Linked DNA regions of Homo sapiens: region 1 is linked to region 2. The links come from fine-mapping of genetic effects on gene expression. Tissue or cell type: fibroblasts. Region 2 holds a variant in brackets; the other region holds the start of a gene. All regions are shown on one strand. Distances are from middle to middle.

Region 1 (8,891 bases), 280 kb before region 2:
GCTTAGACCAGAAGTCAAAGAGACACGCCACCCACTGTACAGCCAGGAGGGGCAAGCACTCACTCAGAGTCAGAGAATACAGGGGCACCCCCAGCCTCCTCTCCACTGCCCTCTCCTCCACCAGGCCCAAGCTTGCCTCAGAGCCCTGGGATACCAGCCTGGCAGACACACCAGCAGCTCTGCATCTTCCTCCAGCCCTTCCTCCTCCTCCTCCTCCTCCACATCCCGCATACAGTCTGCCGCCAACTTCTCGATGTGGGCCATGGGCAGGGGGGCTGGGGGAAAAAGGTCACAACAAGTCAGCACAACTCAGATAAGTTCAGGGATGAGTAAAGGAGGGGCTTGGTAGATCCACCCAGGCAGAAATCCCTCTTCCCTCCCACAGCAGAGTCCCACCTGGAAAACTGCTCTTCCTTTAAGACCCAGTTCAAAAGACCCTCAACAGGGAAACCTTCCTTGGCCCCCCACCAAGCAACAAGCTGCTCCTTTCTCTGCACCTCTGCCTACGGTAGCCTGACATAGACATGGCCATCCACTCTCTCCAACCTCCAACAACACCTTTCACATCTGTAAAGATTTTCAAAGTCCAACAGAGCTTCAAAACAAATCTGCAAGATGGATAATATCCCCTTTTCATATATTGAATAAACTGAGAAACTTCCAACATTAATTTTCCTATCACTGCAATCCTTAAGTGGCAGAGCTAGGATTCAAACCTAGGCTTGTGCCACCCCAAGGCAGGAGCAGTGAGCCCCTTCCTAGGTCCTCCCATTATCCTCAACTCAGGGACACACAGGATGGTGGGGGATGAGTGGGGGGATTCTCTGAGGGTTCCCGGTGAAAAGAGAGGACGATTTAGACCTCCTGATCCTCCCAGGCCTGAAGTCTCTGTTCTCATCTGGGCTGTGGAGGGAGATTCCACTTAACTCGCTGGACACAATTTCTATGTACTTCCTATGTACCCAGTTCAGTCTGTGCTAACTGGGCCCCTACCCTACACCAATACCGTGGCTAGGGCTAAGGATGGGGACCTGAGTCAGTCTGAGAAACACATTTGTCCACAATGGGGAGGGGCCAGCCCAGGCCATGACACAAGGTGGGGAAGCAGGGCGAGGCCGCCTCTTGGTGGGAGTGCGGCAGATGGGTATTGGAAGGACCAGGGGATCTGGCTGGCTCCGTCCAGCTGCAAGGGAACCCCTCTACCACCAGCCTGTGCCCATCTTGTCCCAGCACCAAGACCAGCCCTGTGTCCAAACTCACCCTGCCCCTTGGGTGCTGGCTTCTTGCCTGTGGTTTGTGCTTCCCCTGTGAGAGCCAGCAGCTCAGCCTCCAGGTCCTCATCATCTTCAGCCTCATCCATGCCCAGCAGCATGTCCTCAGGGCCAAACTCCATAAAGAGCCCCATCTGAGAGCAGAGCAGGACTCTTAGGAACCACACAACAAGCAGGGTAGGGTCCAGCTCCAGAGCCAGACTTGGGGCTCTCCAAGTCCCAATCAGTGGCTCCTTCAGTCTGTGAGGCCCAATGTGCAGAAAGAAACTGAGGCCTGCAACATTACTCCTTGAGACACTTACCTTCCTAGGGACTCAACAAAAAACCCAGTAAGACCACACTGAAACTGAGACAGTCTTGTGAGTCAGAATTTAAAACACACTACCATTATTACAACCAACAGCAATAGCTGCCATCATGCACTGTTCTTAGCGTTCTATGTGATTATCTTAACCACCTCAGTTAATTCTCACAATTCTGAGAAGAAGGTCCTATTTTTTGGCCAGGCGCGGTGGCTCACGCCTGTAATCCCAGCACTTTGGGAGGCCGAGGCGGGTGGATCACGAGGTCAGGAGATGGAGACCATCCTGGCTAACACGGTGAAACCCCGTCTCTACTAAAAAATGCAAAAAATTAGCCGGGCGCGGTGGCGGGCGCCTGTAGTCCCAGCTACTCGGGAGGCTGAGGCAGGAGAATGGCGTGAACCCGGGAGATGGAGCTTGCAGTGAGCCAAGATGGCGCCACTGCACTCCAGCCTGGGCGACACAGCGAGACTCCGTCTCAAAAAAAAAAAAAAAAAAGAAGGTCCTATTTTTTTAAACTCTGGTAAAACACATACAACATGAAATTTACCATCTTAACCACTGTTAAGGGTGAGTTCAATGGCATAAGGACATTCACAATATCCTGCTACCATCGCCATCATCCATCCACAGAACTGTTTTCATGTTGTGAAACAAACTTTCTACCCATTAAACATTAACCCCCCTTCCTCCCCTCCTTCCAGCCTCTGGTAAGCACCATTCTTCTGTTTCCATGAATATGACTACTCTAGGTAGAGGTACATCCTTTTTTTTTTTTTTTTCTGAGACAGAGTCTGGCTCTGTCGCCCAGGCTAGAGTGCAGTGGCACTATCTTGGCTCACTGCAACCTCTGCCTCCCGGGTCTAAGCGATTCTCCTGCCTCAGCCTCCCAAGAAGCTGGGAATACAGGCACATGCCACCACGCCCAGCTAATTTTTGTATTTTTAGTAGAGATGGGGTTTCACTATGTTGGCCAGGCTGGTCTCAAACTCCTGACCTCAGGTGATCCACCCACCTCGGCCTCCCAAAGTGCTGGGATTACAGGCGTGATCCACGGCACCCAGCTTACATTCTGTTTTTATCCCAATGTTCAGATGAAACTGAGACAGTCTTGTGAGACAATCAGAATTTAAAACAAGCTCTTTGCGACTTGAGTCTATGCCCTTTACCCCACCTCCTTTCTTACCTGCCTTTTTAAAGACAGTAAAAATGGACTAAGAAGTCTCAAGATGTAGGCCCAGAAGAAATAAAGGAAGAAAATTGGAGAGGAGACCCCCCTGTTCTTCCACTTGGGGCACAGCCATCTGTCCCTAGGCAGTGAAGTCCTCCCACTGACTACAGCCCTCATGCCCTGGCATCCCTGGCTAACAAGCAAAGTTGTGACCCTATCTAAGGAACCTTTGAGAGCACTGAGGTCCCATCAGAACATCCTAAACTTTGGTGATTCCTGAACCCTCTCCCCACTTGTATGTGGAAGAGACTAGTAGGAGGGTGTCTAAGGGCTCTGCCACCTCCAGGAGGCACTGCTCCAAGTCTCTGAACTAATGGGGGAACTACATGTGATCCAGTTTGCCTAAGTTGTCTAGGGACCCCCATCCCCAAACCGACCCAGTAGCCTAGAAGGCTAAGTTCCATACCTGCTTGGCAGCGGCCACCCCTTGGCCTCTGGCCTGAGGGCCCTTCCGAGGTCTTGGCCCTGGCATCATGGCAGCCTAGATACCTATGGAAGAGTTACAGAGATTCAGGCTGGAGTAGCCCATAAGCCACGCCCCCAACAGTGCTACCCGTGGTAAGGTGTGGATAGTAAACTCCCAAAGAAGGCAATGCTGAACACCAAAGTATGGGTTACCTTTAATTAAAGCACTGAAGCAGCACAGGCCATGGGAGGGATGGGGATCACCTGTTAATGGGTTTACTGAGGAATGTTCTGAACGGACTCAAATTTAAAAAGCACATTCAGGGAAGTACTCTAGGTTCAGGGTGGGTGGAAGGCTGGGTAGAATTCAGAAAGGCTCTAAAGCTGTGCTTATGGAAGCCACAGCTGGCTATTTAATTTTAAATTTCAATGAATTAAAATGAAATAAAGCTAAAAATCCAGTCCATCAGCCACAACAGACACATTCCAAGTGCTTAACAGCCATATGTGGTGAGGGGCTATGACCAGACAGCACACACACAGAACATTTTCATCATCCAAGGACATGTCATCAAAGTTCCATCTCACAGCTGAGCTCTGGAGAAAGCTGGCTCAGCATTCTGATTCCCATAAAGATCTCACAGTTATTCACAGGACCTCCTGTGTCAGACCTTGCGCTGGGCACTGGGAGCGCAGAAATGAACCTAAGACGGTCTCAGCCTTCAATGACCATTTACAGGGTGGAGGTGGACTACACGGGGTTGCCCCAGGGGCCATGGGTGCCCTGAGGTGACCCCTTCTTCAGCCCTGGGAGAAAAGGCTCCTCCTTCGAGGCGGTGACGCCTGAGCTGAGTCACGCAAAGAAGTTGGGGGAAAGAGGGAAATAGGATTCCAAGACGAGGGAACACTTGACGGCTCTGAAGTGGGGAGCAGCTTGGCCTGTACAATGGAACCTGAGGCCTGGTATGACTGGGGCATAAGCGGTGAGGCCTGAATGCACAAGCCGAGGTGGAAATGTGAGCAAGCGGCAGAATATGAAAACCTCTAAGCCGAAAAGCGTTTGGGCATTATTCTGAGGGCGCTGGGAAAGAAGTGGCGGGATCGTATCGGTGTTTCAGAAACCCCATTCTGGCACCAAAGGGGAGGTGCACAGAAGGTAGGGGGAAAAGGCAGGAAGCCGGCGCATCTCGCCACAGCGCTGGCGGGGAGACCAGCTGACGGGCGTGGAGGCGGCGGGGAGCGGGCGGAGGAGCTGGCGGGCGCTCCGGGGGACTCTGAGTGTCAGATTTCGGGAGTGACTCCGGCTCAGGTGAAAGCGAGGCCAGACACTCCAAGGCTGCGGCCCCGATGACACAGCCAGGCCTCACGGAAGGTGGGCAACGGAGTCCGTAGGGGGAGGCGACACGGGACCCCCACTCCCGCGCTGCGGGACGCGCCGCCCTGCCCCGCCCGCGCCGCCTCCATCTACCCCCGCGGTCCCCAGAACTCCCCACGCCGAGGGGCGGGGACGCGGCATACCTCGCGGTGAATCCGAGCCAAACCCCGGCCTTGTCTCACCCGGCACCGCCCTGGGCTCCCGCGGGCCCTGGGCCGCAGCGGTAGCGACAGGAAGCGCCAGCAGGGGAGGTGGCTCGCGCGCAACACGTGACCCCACTGGCCGGCGGCCGGCAGTGCGCATGTGCACGGCTACGCGGGCGGGGGGCTCCAACAGGTGACACCGGGGCGGGGTTCGCAGCGCGCAGGCGCGTTCGGGTAGGTAGCGCAGGACAGGAACTCTGGGCGGTTCCGCCGGGGCGTCCACCGGCCGGCTCCAATGAGGTCGCTGCGCCCAGCCCTCGCCCACTTGCAGCCTCTCCACCGAACCTCCTCCCTCACTCAGCCCGAGGCGCTGGGCGCTCGCTCGCTCGCTGGACCTACCCCGCCTCCAGCCCTCGCCCCGCCCCACCGAGCAAGAGGGCGGGGCCTACCCAAGCTCCGCCCTGGAAGAGAGACAGGGGCGGGGCTCACCTGCTTGTCCATGTCCTTTAAGCCTGGGGAAATGGAAATGGGGCCCACCATATGTTTCTTAATAATTCAGCACCTGAAAGTATCCTTTTCCGGTCCGTTGAAAACTTCAGACAGGCAGAGCTCGCTGCACATCTTAAATACTTTACAGAGTCTAACACTAAGTTCTCACTCGCCTACCCTGCTGTGCAATCAAATGGCATGGAGGATATTAAGGAGAGAAACGGAGTATACCCGTTTTCTGCCAAGCTTGTGTCAGTCACTTTTCATAATGGAGCTTATACCAGTTCTCAATCCTGCAAGATGGACATCATCTCTAGAAGAAACGGAGGCTCAGAGAGAATTATTTGCCCAGGGAAATACAAAACCAACCTCTTTAGCATCAGTAAATATGCTCTAGTCTAGTTTTCTAAGGAAAGCACGTTTCTCCCTGCGGCTTGCAGAGTCCAGTTAACAAGAGATTGAGCTCAGGAGTCCGAGACCAGCCTGGGCAACATGGCGAAACCCTGTCTCTACAAAAAATTACAAATATTAGCCGGGTGTGGTGGTGCGTGCCTGTAGTCCTACCTACTGAGAGGCCGAGGCAGGAGAATCGCTGTGGCCCCGGAGGTCCAAGCTGCAATGAGCTGTCAACTGCACTCCAACCCGGGTGACAAGGTGAGACCCTGTCTCAAACTAAAACAAACAAAAAAACCGAGAGCGGAGTAATGGGGAAGTGGCCAGATTCCCATCTAAAGTAACCACTTCGATTTTGGGGGGAAAGAGAACGGCTTAAAAGGAAAATTTGATATGGGAAGCATGCAAGAATTGTACAGAGTACAACGTCTGTGTGTCTTGTTCTGGTGGCTATCTTGGGTCCCAGCCTACCTGGAGCGTGGGCTGGTCTCATCTCCACAATGGCCCCGCTGTTGACTAGCCACCTTGAAGTAATCTTTGGAATTTTGCAGCTGTGTCTCCAGGCTTGGTTTGTCTGTCTCAAGATTAGCCCTTGGAACTTCTCAGAAGGCAGATAATTAAATACTAGCATACAGTAAGATAAATGTGAAGGGAGTATATACAGTGAGAAAGGGAGGGATATGGGGTCTATTTTACAGCTAAGGGAAAAGGCTTTTGCAGTTTGCTTCAAGGTTGTATCTTGAAACCCAAGAGAAAGGAAAAAAAGTTTTAAAATGTATTTTAAAGTTAAACTGCTGGATTAGTTTCTTCTGTCTAAAACATTGCCATCTCCTCTCCTGCCTATGCCTTGAACTTTTAAATTATGTTTTCTAGTTAGCGATCTCCCAGTTTACTTGGACAAAGGGCTTTTCCATCTCCTGATTGCTTACTTTTTTTCTTTTTTTTTTTTTTGAGACAGGATCTCATTCTGTCACCCAGGCTAGAGTGCAGTGGTGCGATCTCCACTCACTGCAACCTGCACCTCCCAGGCTCAAGCAATCCTCTCACCTCAGCCTCTTGAGTAGCTGGGACCACAGGCACGTGCCACCATGCCCAGCATTTTTTTTTTTTTTTTTGTAGAAACATGTTTTTGCTATGTGCCCAGGCTGATCTCAAACTCCTGAGCTCAGGGGATCAACCCACATCAGCCTCCCAAAGTGCTGGGATTACAGGCGTGAGCCACCATGCCCTGCCCATTACCATATTTAAATTGAGATTTCACATCCATATTTCTCATTCCTTTTAAAATTATTTAAAAATTTTTATAATGAAACATTTAAGATATAAACAAAGATACACAATATTTAACATTTACTAGAATGCAAGCTCCAGAAGGAGAAATTTTTTTATTGCTTCTCCAAGTGTCTCGTGTCTACAGCAGTGCATGGTACATAGTAGGCACTCAATAGTTCCTTGTTGTGTGAATTAACTACATGGACATCTATTACCAGTTTAAGGGAAAAAAAAAAGCAGGTGAGCGGGCGCGTCCCCGCGACCGCGCTGCCTCCCCGAGGCGGTTCACGTAAAGCCAGCGAGGCCCTGCCTGCCAGCCGGGAAGGAGGCGTGGTTATGGAGCTGGCGGCTGCAACCCCGGGGCCCGCGCCGCTGCCTAGCGCTTCCCGGGGGCTCTTTGGGGACGCGCCCCCCGCCGCGGCTCGGGGACCCGTAGAGCCCGGCGCTGCGCGGTTGGCCCTTCTCCCGCGCCCCGCGCTCACCCTCCTGCTCCTCCTCATGGCCGCTGTTATCAGGTGCCTGGAGCAGGCCTAGACCACCGACTGGAGGGCCACCCTGAAGACCATCCGGAACGGCGTTCATAAGATAGACACGTACCTGAACGCCGCCTTGGACCTCCTGGGAGGCGAGGACGGTCTCTGCCAGTATAAATGCAGTGACGGATCTAAGCCTTTCCCACGTTATGGTTATAAACCCTCCCCACCGAATGGATGTGGCTCTCCACTGTTTGGCGTTCATCTTAACATTGGTATCCCTTCCCTGACAAAGTGTTGCAACTAACACGACAGGTGCTATGAGAACTGTGGCAAAAGCAAGAATGACTGTGATGAGAAATTCCAGTATTGCCTCTCCAAGATCTGCCGAGAAGTACAGAAAACACTAGGACTAACTTAGCATGTTCAGGCATGTGAAACAACAATGGAGCTCTTGTTTGACAGTGTTATACATTTAGGTTGTAAACCATATCTGGACAGCCAACGAGCCACATGCAGGTGTCATTATGAAGAAAAAACCGATATTTAAAGGAGATGCTGACAGCTGGTGACAGATGAAGACGGAAGAACATAACCTTTGACAAATAACTAATGTTTTTACAACATAAAACTATCTGATTTTTGTGAAAAAAGAAAAACAAACATAGTTGGAGCTACCTGTACATCTCCCATATTGCAACACCTCCCTTTCCCAAAGATGTACCCATTATCCTAAATTTAGTGTTTATTATTCCTGAGCATTTCTATTTCTGTGTAGGTATCCTTAAGCAATACATAGTATTTTTTTTGCCAGCTTTTAAAAATTATATCATTGGTTACATACAGTGTAATTCTTCAACCTTTTTCTACTCAACCCTGTTTGTAAGCTTCACTCAAATTGACATGTATACTGTATCTAGTTAGCTGATTTTCATTTCTGTTATGATTCCATAGCATGAAAATAAGTCACTTTCCCAATGGCTTACCATTATAGAGTGCTATGAACTTTTTGTATATGACTCTTGGTGTACGTATGTGAATTTCTCTAGAGCATATACTTAGGAATGGAATTGCTGGCTGCATTAGTCAGGTTTCTCTAGAGGAACAGAACTAATAGGATATATATATATATATATGTGTGTGTGTGTGTGTATATATATATGTGTGTGTGTGTGTATATATATGTGTGTATATATATATATGTGTATATATATATATAGTCCCACAATAGGCTGTCTGCATGCTCTATTAACCATCACACTGGCTGATATGGTTTGGCTCTGTGTTCCCACCCAAATCTCATCTTGAATAGTAATCCCATAATCCCCATGTGTCCTGGGAGGCATCTTGTGGGAGGTAATTGAATCATGGTTTCCTTCATGCTGTTCTTGTGATAGGAGTGAGTTCTCACGAGATCTGATGGTTTTATAAGCATCTGGCATTTCCCCTGCTGGCACTCATTCTCTCTCCTGCTGCCCTGTGAAGAGGTGCCTTTCACCATGATTTTAAGTTTCCTGAGGGCTCCCCAGCCATGTGG
Region 2 (10,487 bases):
CACTCCAGCCTGGGAGACAGAGCAAGACCGTGTCTCAGAAAAAAGTGGGGCCGGGTGCAGTGGCTCATGCCTGTAATCCCAGCACTTTGGGAGGCCAGGGCGGGCGGATCACAAGATCAGGAGATCGAGACCATCCTGGCTAATGCGGTGAAAACATGTCTCTACTAAAAATACAAAAAATTAGCTGGGCTTGGTGGTGGGCGCCTGTAGTCCCAGCTACTCAGGAGGCTGAGGCAGGAGAATGGCGTGAACCCGGGAGGCGGAGCTTGCAGTGAGCAGAAATTGCGCCACTGCACTCCAGCCTGGGCAACAGAGCAAGACTCTGTCTCCAAAAAAAAAAAAAAAAAGAAGAAGAAGAAGAAGTAAGGGTGACAGGAGGCATCGGGGAGGTAGAAGGGGCAAGGTGGGTAGTAGCTAAGTCTCAGAGAAAGAGAGGGCTGAATGCCATCATTTGTAAACACGAATTTTCCAAGTTAACAATAAAAATACAACAAGCAACAGCACAAGAACCCTTCTCAGATCCTGATGACTGTGAATAATCCAGCTGTGACTGAGCAGCAAAAAGCAGGAGGGGTCACTTTTGAGGGTGGAAGGATTCAGCTGGCTCCTCTTGGAGTGAGAAAGACCTGAGAGGCAGTGGCAGGGGAAAAGAAAAACGTCTGCACATAGAACCAGCCTGGTGGAGACCAGAGACAACTGAGGCTTCAACGTTTTGTTTTGTTTTGTTTTGTTTTGTTTGAGACAAGGTCTCACTCCAGTTGCCCAGGCTGGAATGCAGTGGCGTAATCATGGCTCACTGCAGCCTTGCACTCCGGGGCTCAGGTGATTCTCCCACCTCATTCTCCTGAATAGCAGGACTACAGGTGCGTAGCACCACACCTGGCTAATTTTTTGTATTTTTAGTAGAGATGGAGTTTCACCGTCCTGCTCAGGCTAGTCTCAAACTCCTGGCCTCAAGCAATCCACCTGCCTTGGCCTCCCAAAGTGCTGGGATTACAGGTGTGAGCCACCACACCCAGCTGGTTTCAACTTTTATAGAGGTCAATGAAAGACATAAAAGAACCTGACTATATGGGAGATATGGCACATATGTGGATAGAAAGGCTCAATATCATAGAAATGCCAGTTCTTCCTAAATTAACCTATACATAAAAATAAATAAAAATGTTTCATGGAATTTGTCAAATTAATTCTAAAGTTAATCTAGAGGCATACAGGTGCAAGAATGAACAACACAATTTTGGAAAACAAAGAAGAGGAGGGACTTGCTCTATCAGGCAGCAGGACATTTTTTAAAATAAAGGATTTCTGTTTAAAAATATAAGTTTTGTGATATTGGCACAGAAATTGACAAATAGAATTGGGCAATGCAGTGGTTTTAAACTGAGTACAAATTTGTTCCCCTAGGACAATTGGCAATGTATGTAAACATTTTTGGTTGTCACATTCGGGGAAGGGATACTATTGATAACTATTGGTAGAGGCCAGGGATGCTGTTTAACAGCCTACAATAAAGAGGACAGTACCTCACAACAAAGAATTATCTGGCCCAAAATGTCAATAGTACCAGTTGAGAAACCCTAGAGTAGAGAATAGAGTACTAAAGTTGAAAAACCTAGAATAGAAAGAGTCCAGAAACAGACTAATAAAAATATAGGAATTTGTATAAAATGTATAATTTTCTAAAAAATAAAGGAAAAGATTGGCAAATGTCCCTACATCAAGTACAAATAATATGACACTGTATGTGAAGTTAAAAAACAAATGATGGGCTGCAAAGATATTATATTACATTAAATATCTATACACACACACACACACACACACACACACACACACACAATTAGTCCTCATATTCTCCAATTCTGTATTTGCAAATTTCCCTACTTGCTAAAATTTACTTGTAACGTCAGCATCAATACTCAAGGCAATTCTGAGGTCATTTGTAAATGTGGGCACACACAGAGTAGCAAAAAATTTGATTTACACATGTATCCTAGGTGATATTGAATAAGGTATGCTCTGCCTTCTCTTTGCAGCTCTCATGGTACAAGCAAGTGTCTTTTTCTCAGTCTATTTAGTGCCATGGTTTTTGTATTTTTTTATTTTTAATGGGTGATTTCACTGTTTTGTTTTGGTTTATTTTTATTTTCATTTTTTGAGATGGAGTCTTGCTCTGTCGCCCAGGCTAGAGTGCGGTGGTGCGATCTCAGCTCACTGCCACTTCCGTCTCCCAGGTTCAAGCAATTCTCCTGCCTCAGCCTCTCAAGTAGCTGAGACTACAGGCACCCAACATCATGCCCAGCTAATTTTTTTTTGTATTTTTAGTAGACACAGAGTTTCGTTATATTGGCCAGGCTGGTCTTGAATTACTGAACTTAGGTGATATGCCTGCCTTGGCCTCCCAAAGTGCTGGGATTACAGGTGTGAGCCACTGTACCTGGCCTGTTTTTGTTTGTTTTAGAGACATGAGTTTTAGGTTATAGTGCTGTTGGCCATGAGTTCAATGTTAATGAATCAATAACATATTAAATAAGGTCACTTTAAACAGAAACACACATAGAAAAACAAAGTTACATATTGATCAGTTGACAAAAATGTGACCAGAGGCTCACAGGAACATAACCTTGTATTTCCCCTAGGAGCAATAATTCAGTATTTGTTAATTTAGTGTTTGCTGTGACTTTGTAGAATATAACTACCGTGAATAATGAGAATCAACTGTATATAAAACAAGGCAGTATTGATATAAGTACACCTTAAAAGATAAGAAAAATGTAATTTGTTAAAAAAGAAATGCAAATGCCCAATGCACAGGAAAAGATGCTCAACATTACTAATAATCAGGGGAATGCAATTCAAAAATGATACATCCAGGCCAGGCACTGTGGCTCACACCTATAATCTCAGCACTTAGGGAGGTGGAGGCGGGCAGATCACTTGAGGTCAGAAGTTCGAGACCAGCCTGGCCAACATGGTGAAACCCATCCCTACAAAAAATACAAAAATTAGCCAGACATAGTGGCACATGCCTGTAGATCCAGCTACCTGGGGAGCTAAAGTGGGAGGATTGCTTGAGGCCAGGAGGTGGAGACTGCAGTGAGCCAGGATCGGCCACTGCACTCCAGCCTGGGCGACAGATCAAGACCCTGTCTCAAAAAAAAAAAGAAAAAAAGAAAAATCTTTATTAAAAAAAAAAAATTACATTGGCAAATTGGCAAAAGCCCAAAAATGTATCATATTAAAAGTGAGAAGGTTGGAAGGTTGGGATGGGGGAAGCAGGTACTCTCATATACTGCTGGTAAGAGTATGCATTGGTACGACCACTTTACAGAGAATTTTGGCAATATCTATTTAAATAATATATATAATTATATATTAATATATCATATAATTATATATTAACATATCTAATATATAATTATATATAATATATTTCATTATTACATAATTAATTATCAATATTATATAATTGTTAGTTTTATATATATACCCTGTTACTCAGTAATTCTACTTCTAATTAGCTGCCTTAAATAGTTGCATTAGGAGAGGCTTTGTAAAGACAGACATCTTAAGAACCTGTCATATTGGAAACTAAATGTCCATAGGTAGAGGAATGGATCATAAACTGTGGTATAATAGAATAATTAAATATTGATACAATATAGGCAAAAGGAATGAACTAGCTCTAAATGTACCATATTATTTGCTCTTTATGGTAACTGGGTAGGGTATAGATCATGCTATTACTTTCATTTTACAGATGAGGAAACTGAGACCCAAAGTCACCGAATGAGTGACAGAGCCAACTCTCCCCTTCACCCTCCTTCCTCTCCTTATCCCTGTTGCTGTGAAAGGGGCATCCCTACAATGTGCCAGACACTGTTTGAAATTTCACACACACCATCTCCTCTAATCTTTCCAGCTATCCCAGTGAGGTAGGTCTCATTATAACCCAGTTTACAGATGCAAAAATCAGGTCTCAGAGAGCTTAGATGATTTGCACAAGGGTCATACATAGCTTGTGATTGTGGAGCTGGAAATCAAACACGTGTCTTTCTGCCTCCAAAGTCCTGCTCTTTCCATCCTCCTAGAGCAGGACTGTGGGATGTTCTGGCTTGTGCTCTGTGCTCCTAGTCTCACCCCACCCTACCCATCCCCTAATTCCTACTTTTCTGGCTCAAG[C/T]GGAATACAGTTCATCCCTCGGCCCTGTGAATGGAAACCATCCTCCTGCTTTTCACTGCTCAGCCACCAGCTGAATTATTCAGTCACGAGAATTTGAGACAGCATGTCCTCTTGATTTTTGTTTCTTATTTTTAAGAAGAAAAGTGCATTGCCTGACCTTTTACTAAATAACAGCTTTAGGCTCTCTCTGCTTTTTGCTCAAACTCAGCTCTTAGTTCCTACCCTTCTTCTTCATTAAGTGTTGGCCTCTCCTTCCCTCTGCACCCAAAGCATCAACCCAGGAGCTTCCTTCTGCATCTGAGATGGTTACAGGCCCACTCTCTTACATTCATCAGAGCTTTACTGTTGATAGACTTTCATTTCTGTTTGCTCTCTTGCGCTTCAATAGGACATGGAGAGAGGTCTTTACCCCCATTTTATAGCAGAGGAAACCAAGGCTCAGCCAAGGGAAATGAACTAAGTCCACATAGCCAGTGAGCATGTGTCACTGCGATGTCAACCCAGATCTCCCAGACTCTAAAGCCTATGATTGCACTGTCCCTTGGGTTCCTTAGCTCTGAGTATGGAGGCAAGGGTGGGGTGGGGAGTGCCTTGGCAAGAGCAGAGTGTAAATGGAAAAGCAGTTTCTGAAATAGGCTTCTTTCCCTGCCCAGGCATTCTGTACTCTGTCCCATCACCGTCACACCCATCCCATCCCCAAACTTGGGATGGCAATGAAGACCATAACTTTCTTATTCTGGTACTTTGTGAGGAACTGGCTAGATCAGAAAAGTGAGTTCCTACTGTTGAGCTGGGCACTGTGCTAAGGACTTCAAACACATCATCCCCTTTAACCTGCTCAACTACTCTGCCTGGTGATTATTATCAACTCCCATTTTGCAGATGAGGTCAGTGAGGTGAGTGTAGAGGTGATATCTAGGTACATTTAATAAGATACTAAAACATTGGGGGGAAAATTAAGGAGTCCAATTCTTATCCTTTTCTGAAAGTTGTTGGTGAAGAGGTCATTAGTCAGCCATTCTCATCAACTAGAACTCAAAAGCTCCTAGAAATAAAGTCTGATGCTCTCACTGTATAGATGGGGCAGCTGAGGCCCAGAGAGAGGCAGTCATGTGCCTAAGGTCACCCAGCCAATTGGTGGCCAAGCCTTTGCCTCCCAGCCAGAGACCTTTCCCTGCAGCAGCTGCCCCTATACTGCAGAATGACTTTCATCAGCCCCTCCCACCTTCCACAGAAGGCTCAGTCATGTCACCCCAGAGCCCACTGCTTTTTAATTAACCATACTTGAGAGGTAACGCCGAGGAACCAAACATGCTTCAGTCAGTGATGAGTTTGTTTTGACTCCTCCAAGCAGGGGGAAAACCTGAGAACTCCTTTCCAAGCTGGTCACCACAGGCTAGGCCCATGTTCAGGGTTGAGAACCCCAGGTAATGGGGGACTGGCCACGGAGGTCCTTGGAGAAAGGAGGGAAGGCACAGCGCTGGGCAGAGATGCCAGAAAACCTAGTTCTAATCTTGGCCTTGCTGCTGTCAGTGTGTGGCCTTAAGCAAGTCATTTTTCTCTCGGCCTCAATTTACTCTAAAATGTGTACCCTCATAGCTACTAAGAAAGTTGTTGCAAAAACTAGAAATGATGCTTACTGGTATTTAATTAGTCTCAAACACATAGTAGGCTTTTAACAATTAGTGGCTGTCATTTTCATTATTATTAGGCGCTTCAATTTTTACATGTTGGCAATCTCAAACATACCATTTTCTTTTTTTTAAAACCCTTTTTTTTTTTTTTTTTTTGAGACAGAATCTCCCTCTGTTACCCAGGCTGGAGTGCAGTGGTGTGATCTTGGCTCACTGCAACCTTCGCCTCCCGGGTTCAAGCAATTCTCCTGCCTCAGCCTCTCATGTAGCTGAGGCTACAGGCACCTGCCACCACACCCGGCTAATTTTTGTATTTTTAATAGAAACGGGGTTTCACTGTGTTAGCCAGGCTGGTCTTGAACTCCTGACCCCAGGTGATCCACCCGTCTCAGCCTCCCAAAGTGCTGGAATTACAGGCATGAGCCACCACGCCTGGCCTAACCTTTTTTTTTTTTTTAACAGCTTCCCACATAAGCCAAAAATGTAATGTAATTGCTAAAAAAAAAAGTGAGTGGAACCTCAGGTCACATTAACAGAGTATAAGGTCTGGAAGCAAAGGAGTGATGATCTATATTAACTTTCAGTTGGATAGAACTCACCAGCCATCACATCTCAGAAATAACTTTTTATCGTCTACTCTGTAGGTTCCCAACTTTGGTTTCCAATTTCCTGAGGGTCCCCAAACATAGCAGTGGGGATTCTTGAGCAATCTCCAATATTGCAAAGGTTTTTTGTTTTTTGTTTTTTTTGAGACGGAGTCTCGCTCTGTTGCCCAGGCTAGAGTGCAGTGGTGTGATCTCTGCTCACTGCAACCTGCGCCTCCCAGGTTCAAGCAATTCTCTGCCTCAGCCTCCCAAGTAGCTGGGATTACAGGCCCCTGCCATCACGCCTGGCTAATATTTGTATTTTTAGTAGAGACGGGGTTTCACCATCTTGGCCAGAGGCTGGTCTTGAACTCCTGACCTCGTGATCCACCCGCCTCAGCCTCCCAAAGTGCTGGGATTGCAGGTGTGAGCCACTGTGCCCGGCCCAACAATTTTTGTTTTCTTTTTTTTTGAGATGGAGTCTCACCCTCTTGCCCAGGCTGGAGTGCAATGTTGCCATCTCGGCTCACTGCACCCTCTGCCTCCCAGGTCCAAGCAGTTCTCCTGCCTCAGCTGGCTACAATATTGCAAAGGTTTTACAGGGACCAAGTTTCTTCTCTTTGAGCTAGAATTATATCAGTTCCAGGGGGTAATTAACATAGGTGCTCTCCTGCTGATCAGAGCTCTTTGATTAATACAGAATGGAAAAAATTAGTACTTAATAAATGCAGTCTATTATGTAGACAGAATCCTTCAGAACTTGGAGTTCAAAGGGAAAGAAGTAGAAAAATTAGGCCAGTTGTATTTTCTACACCATTTTATGAAGTAGTAACAGATCTAGAGAGGTGAAGGGTTTGGCACAAAGTAGCACAATGATTTAATATCAGAATGAGGACTTGAGCCAAGGTCTTGTAACTCCTGGAAGCCCAAGGGATTCCCCAGAGCCCTGGCTGGCCAGTTGCTCAGAGCCCCATAATGTGAGATGGACTTTGACCAATCAGATGATCAGAGGCAGGTGACTACTTCAGATCTGGGAACCAGGTCATGTGAGGATTAGGTAAAGAGCTGGGGATAGTTGGCCTTGAACAGAGGAGACTCTGGGCTCACAGCCTAGGGCCTCAGATCTCTGCAAGGTTGTTCTGGGACAAGAGGATCAGACATTTTTATGAGAATCGAGAGAACAGAGCTGAAATCAGTGGGGAAAGCCATAGGGAGATGGATGTTGAGTCAATAAAGGTAGAACTTATTTAGAGTATACCTGAAATACTGCAAAAAGAACTCCATCACTCTGGGCCATATTTCACTCACAAATTCGTAATCCTTTACAAATTTGTTTTGTTTTTTAACAAACAAGTTTTTTTGTTTTGTTAAATTGTTTTGTTTTGTTTTTTAAAAAAGCACCTCTATCCATGGAAGGTAATCAGGAAAAGGCTAAATATGGGATTCAGCTAAGGGGATTCTTGTATTGAAGAGAAGGTTGAAGTAAATCCCTGTACAAGTTGGAATGCCTTAAAATGAAAGCTTAAATAACAAAGAATCCCAAGGAGTCTATAAAACGTGCACAAAATAACCTGTTAGAACAAAGTGTGTTTGGGCCGGGCGCAGTGGCTCACACCTGTAATCCCAGCACTTTGGGAGGCCCAGGAGGGTGGATCATGAGGTCAGGAGATTGAAACCATCCTGGCTAACACGGTGAAACCCCATCTCTACTAAAAATACAACAAAATTAGCCGGGCTTGGTGGCGGGCACCTGTAATCCCAGCTACTCGGGAGGCTGAGGCAGGAGAATGGCATGAACCCTGGAGGGAGAGCTTGAAGTGAACAGAGATCGCGCCACTGCACTCCAGCCTGGGTGACAGAGTGAGACTCTGTCTCAAAAAAAAAAAAAAAAAAAAAAAAAAAAAAAAAGAACTAAGTTTGTTTAGCAAGGTCACAGTAAAGTCAAAACCAAACATCAATTGTATTTATATATACTACTAACAAAAAATTAGAAACCCAAACTAAAAACACAATAATACCATTTACAGTTACTCTAAAATAAATGAAATACTTAGGTAAAATTTAACAAAACATGTACAGGTTCTGTATGTTAAAAACTACAAAATCCCTCCACTTTGGGAGGCCAAGACTGGAGGATCGCTTGAGCCCAGGAGTTCGAGATCATTCTGGGCAACATGACAAGACTCCTGTCTCTACAAAAAAAAAAAAAAAAAAAAAAAAAAAAGCAGGGTATGGTGGCATGTGCCTGTAGTCCCAGCTACTGGGAGGCTGAGATGGGAGGATTGCTTTAGCCCAGGAGGCGGAGGCTGCCATGAGCCCAGATCACACCACTGCACTCTAGTCTGGGTGACAGAGCAAGACTCTGTCTCAAAAAAAAGAAAACTACAAAATGCTTAGCCGGGCATGATGGCATGTGGCTGAGGTGGGAGGATCCCTTGAGCCCAAGAGTTCAAGGCTCACTTGTAAGCTATGATCATGTCACTATACTCCAACCTGGCAACAGAGGGAGACCCCTGTCTCTAAAAATAACCAACCAAACAAAAAAAAAACTACAAAATGCTGATGAAGGAAATCAAAGAAGACCTAAAATGGAGAAATACACTATGTTCATGAATTGCAAAACTCAACATAGTAAACATAAAAATTGCAACCCGCCCTTTTTTTTTGAGACAGGGCCTTGCTCTGTTACCCAGGCTGGAGTACAATGGCACAATCTAGCCTCAACTTCCTGGGCTCAAGTGACCCTCCCACCTCAGCCTCCCAAGGAGCTCAATGGAAAAGAATTCACAGAAAATTAGGCCAGTCGTATTTTCTGTTCCATTTTATGAAGTAGTAACCGAGATCCAGAGAAGAGAAGGGTTTGGCACAAAGTAGCACAACGTTTAATACCAGAATGAGGACTTGAGCCAAGGTCTTGTAACTTCTGGAAGGCTTGGCTGGCAGCTGCTCAGACCCCCACAATTGGAGAGGGATCACCACACCCTGTTAATTTTTTATTTTTGTAGAGATGGGTTCTTGCTATGTTGCCCAGGCTGGTTTTGAACTCCTGGGCTCAAGCAATTCTCCCTTCTTGGCCTCTCAAAGTGTGGGGATTACAAGTGTGAGCCACTGTGCCTGGCCAAAATGGCAGTTTTATAGATAGATAGATAGATAGATAGATAGATAGATAGACAGATAGATAGATAGATAGATAAGCTAATTCTCAAATTTATATATAGAGAGACAAAGGAACTAGAATAGCTAAAGTAATACTGAAAAAGAATAATGAAGTTGGAGGAAATCACACTACTCAATTTTAAGACTTATTGTATAGCAACAATAATAAACAGTAAGGAGGATAGTGTGGTATTGGAGGAGGGACAGACACATGCATAGATCAAAATATGGTCCAGAAGTAGACTGACATCATAAGGTTGTCCAACAGATTTTTGATGAAGGTGCAAAATCAATTCAACTGGGGAAGATAGTCTTTTCAATAAATGGTGTTAAAACAACTAAACTTCCATAAGTAAAAAATAAACCTTTACCTAGATCTCACACCTTGTACAAAAATTATCTCAAAAAAGATCTAAATGTAAACCAAAAAACTCTAACACTTTTAGAAGAAAACAGGGAAAAATCTTCATGACATGCGGTTATGCAAAGAATTCTTAAACAAGACATCAAAAGCACAATACATTTTAAAAAAGATAAGCCAGTATTCATCAAAGTTCAAAATTTTAATGCTGTGAAAGATCCTGTTAAGAGGATGAAAAGGCAAGCCTCAGACTGGAGAATATATTCACATATTTGACAAAATATATAAGGATTGGTCGGGTGTGGTGGCTCATGCCTGTAATCCCAGCACTTTGGGAGGCCCAGGTGGGTGGATCACTTGAGGTCAGGAGTTCAAGACAAGCCTGGCTGACATGGCGAAACCCCGTCTCTACTAAAAATACAAAAAGAATTAGCCAGGTCTTGTGGCACAAGCCTGTAATCCCAGCTACTCAGGAGGCTGAGGCAGGAGAATCACTTGAACCCAGGAAATGGAGGTTGTGGTGAGCTGAGATCACGCCACTGCACTCCAGCCTGGGTGACAGAGTGA

Evidence for each region. PIP is the estimated chance that this variant, and not a neighbour inherited with it, causes the effect.
Region 1: it holds the start of CC2D1B, and the variant in region 2 is fine-mapped to the expression of CC2D1B in fibroblasts (GTEx, PIP 0.98).

The regions. Positions count from the first base shown.
Region 1 is chr1:52,361,342-52,370,232 of GRCh38, forward strand. CC2D1B (coiled-coil and C2 domain containing 1B) reads right to left here and starts at 4,864. Exons shown (of 25, transcript NM_001330585.2): 1 at 4,728-4,864; 2 at 3,211-3,293; 3 at 1,261-1,405; 4 at 172-275. The coding sequence starts at 3,279. It also overlaps the pseudogene PLA2G12AP1. RefSeq lists silencers at 4,464-4,573, 4,614-5,243, 7,226-7,325, 7,386-7,465 and an enhancer at 7,056-7,105.
Region 2 is chr1:52,644,688-52,655,174 of GRCh38, forward strand. The region is part of intron 2 of SHISAL2A (shisa like 2A); the gene reads left to right. Among named protein-coding and RNA genes, the nearest start is that of SHISAL2A, 17 kb to the left of the region's middle. RefSeq lists a silencer at 7,310-7,604 and an enhancer at 7,310-7,604. The variant C/T (reference allele first, on the strand shown) is at 4,186.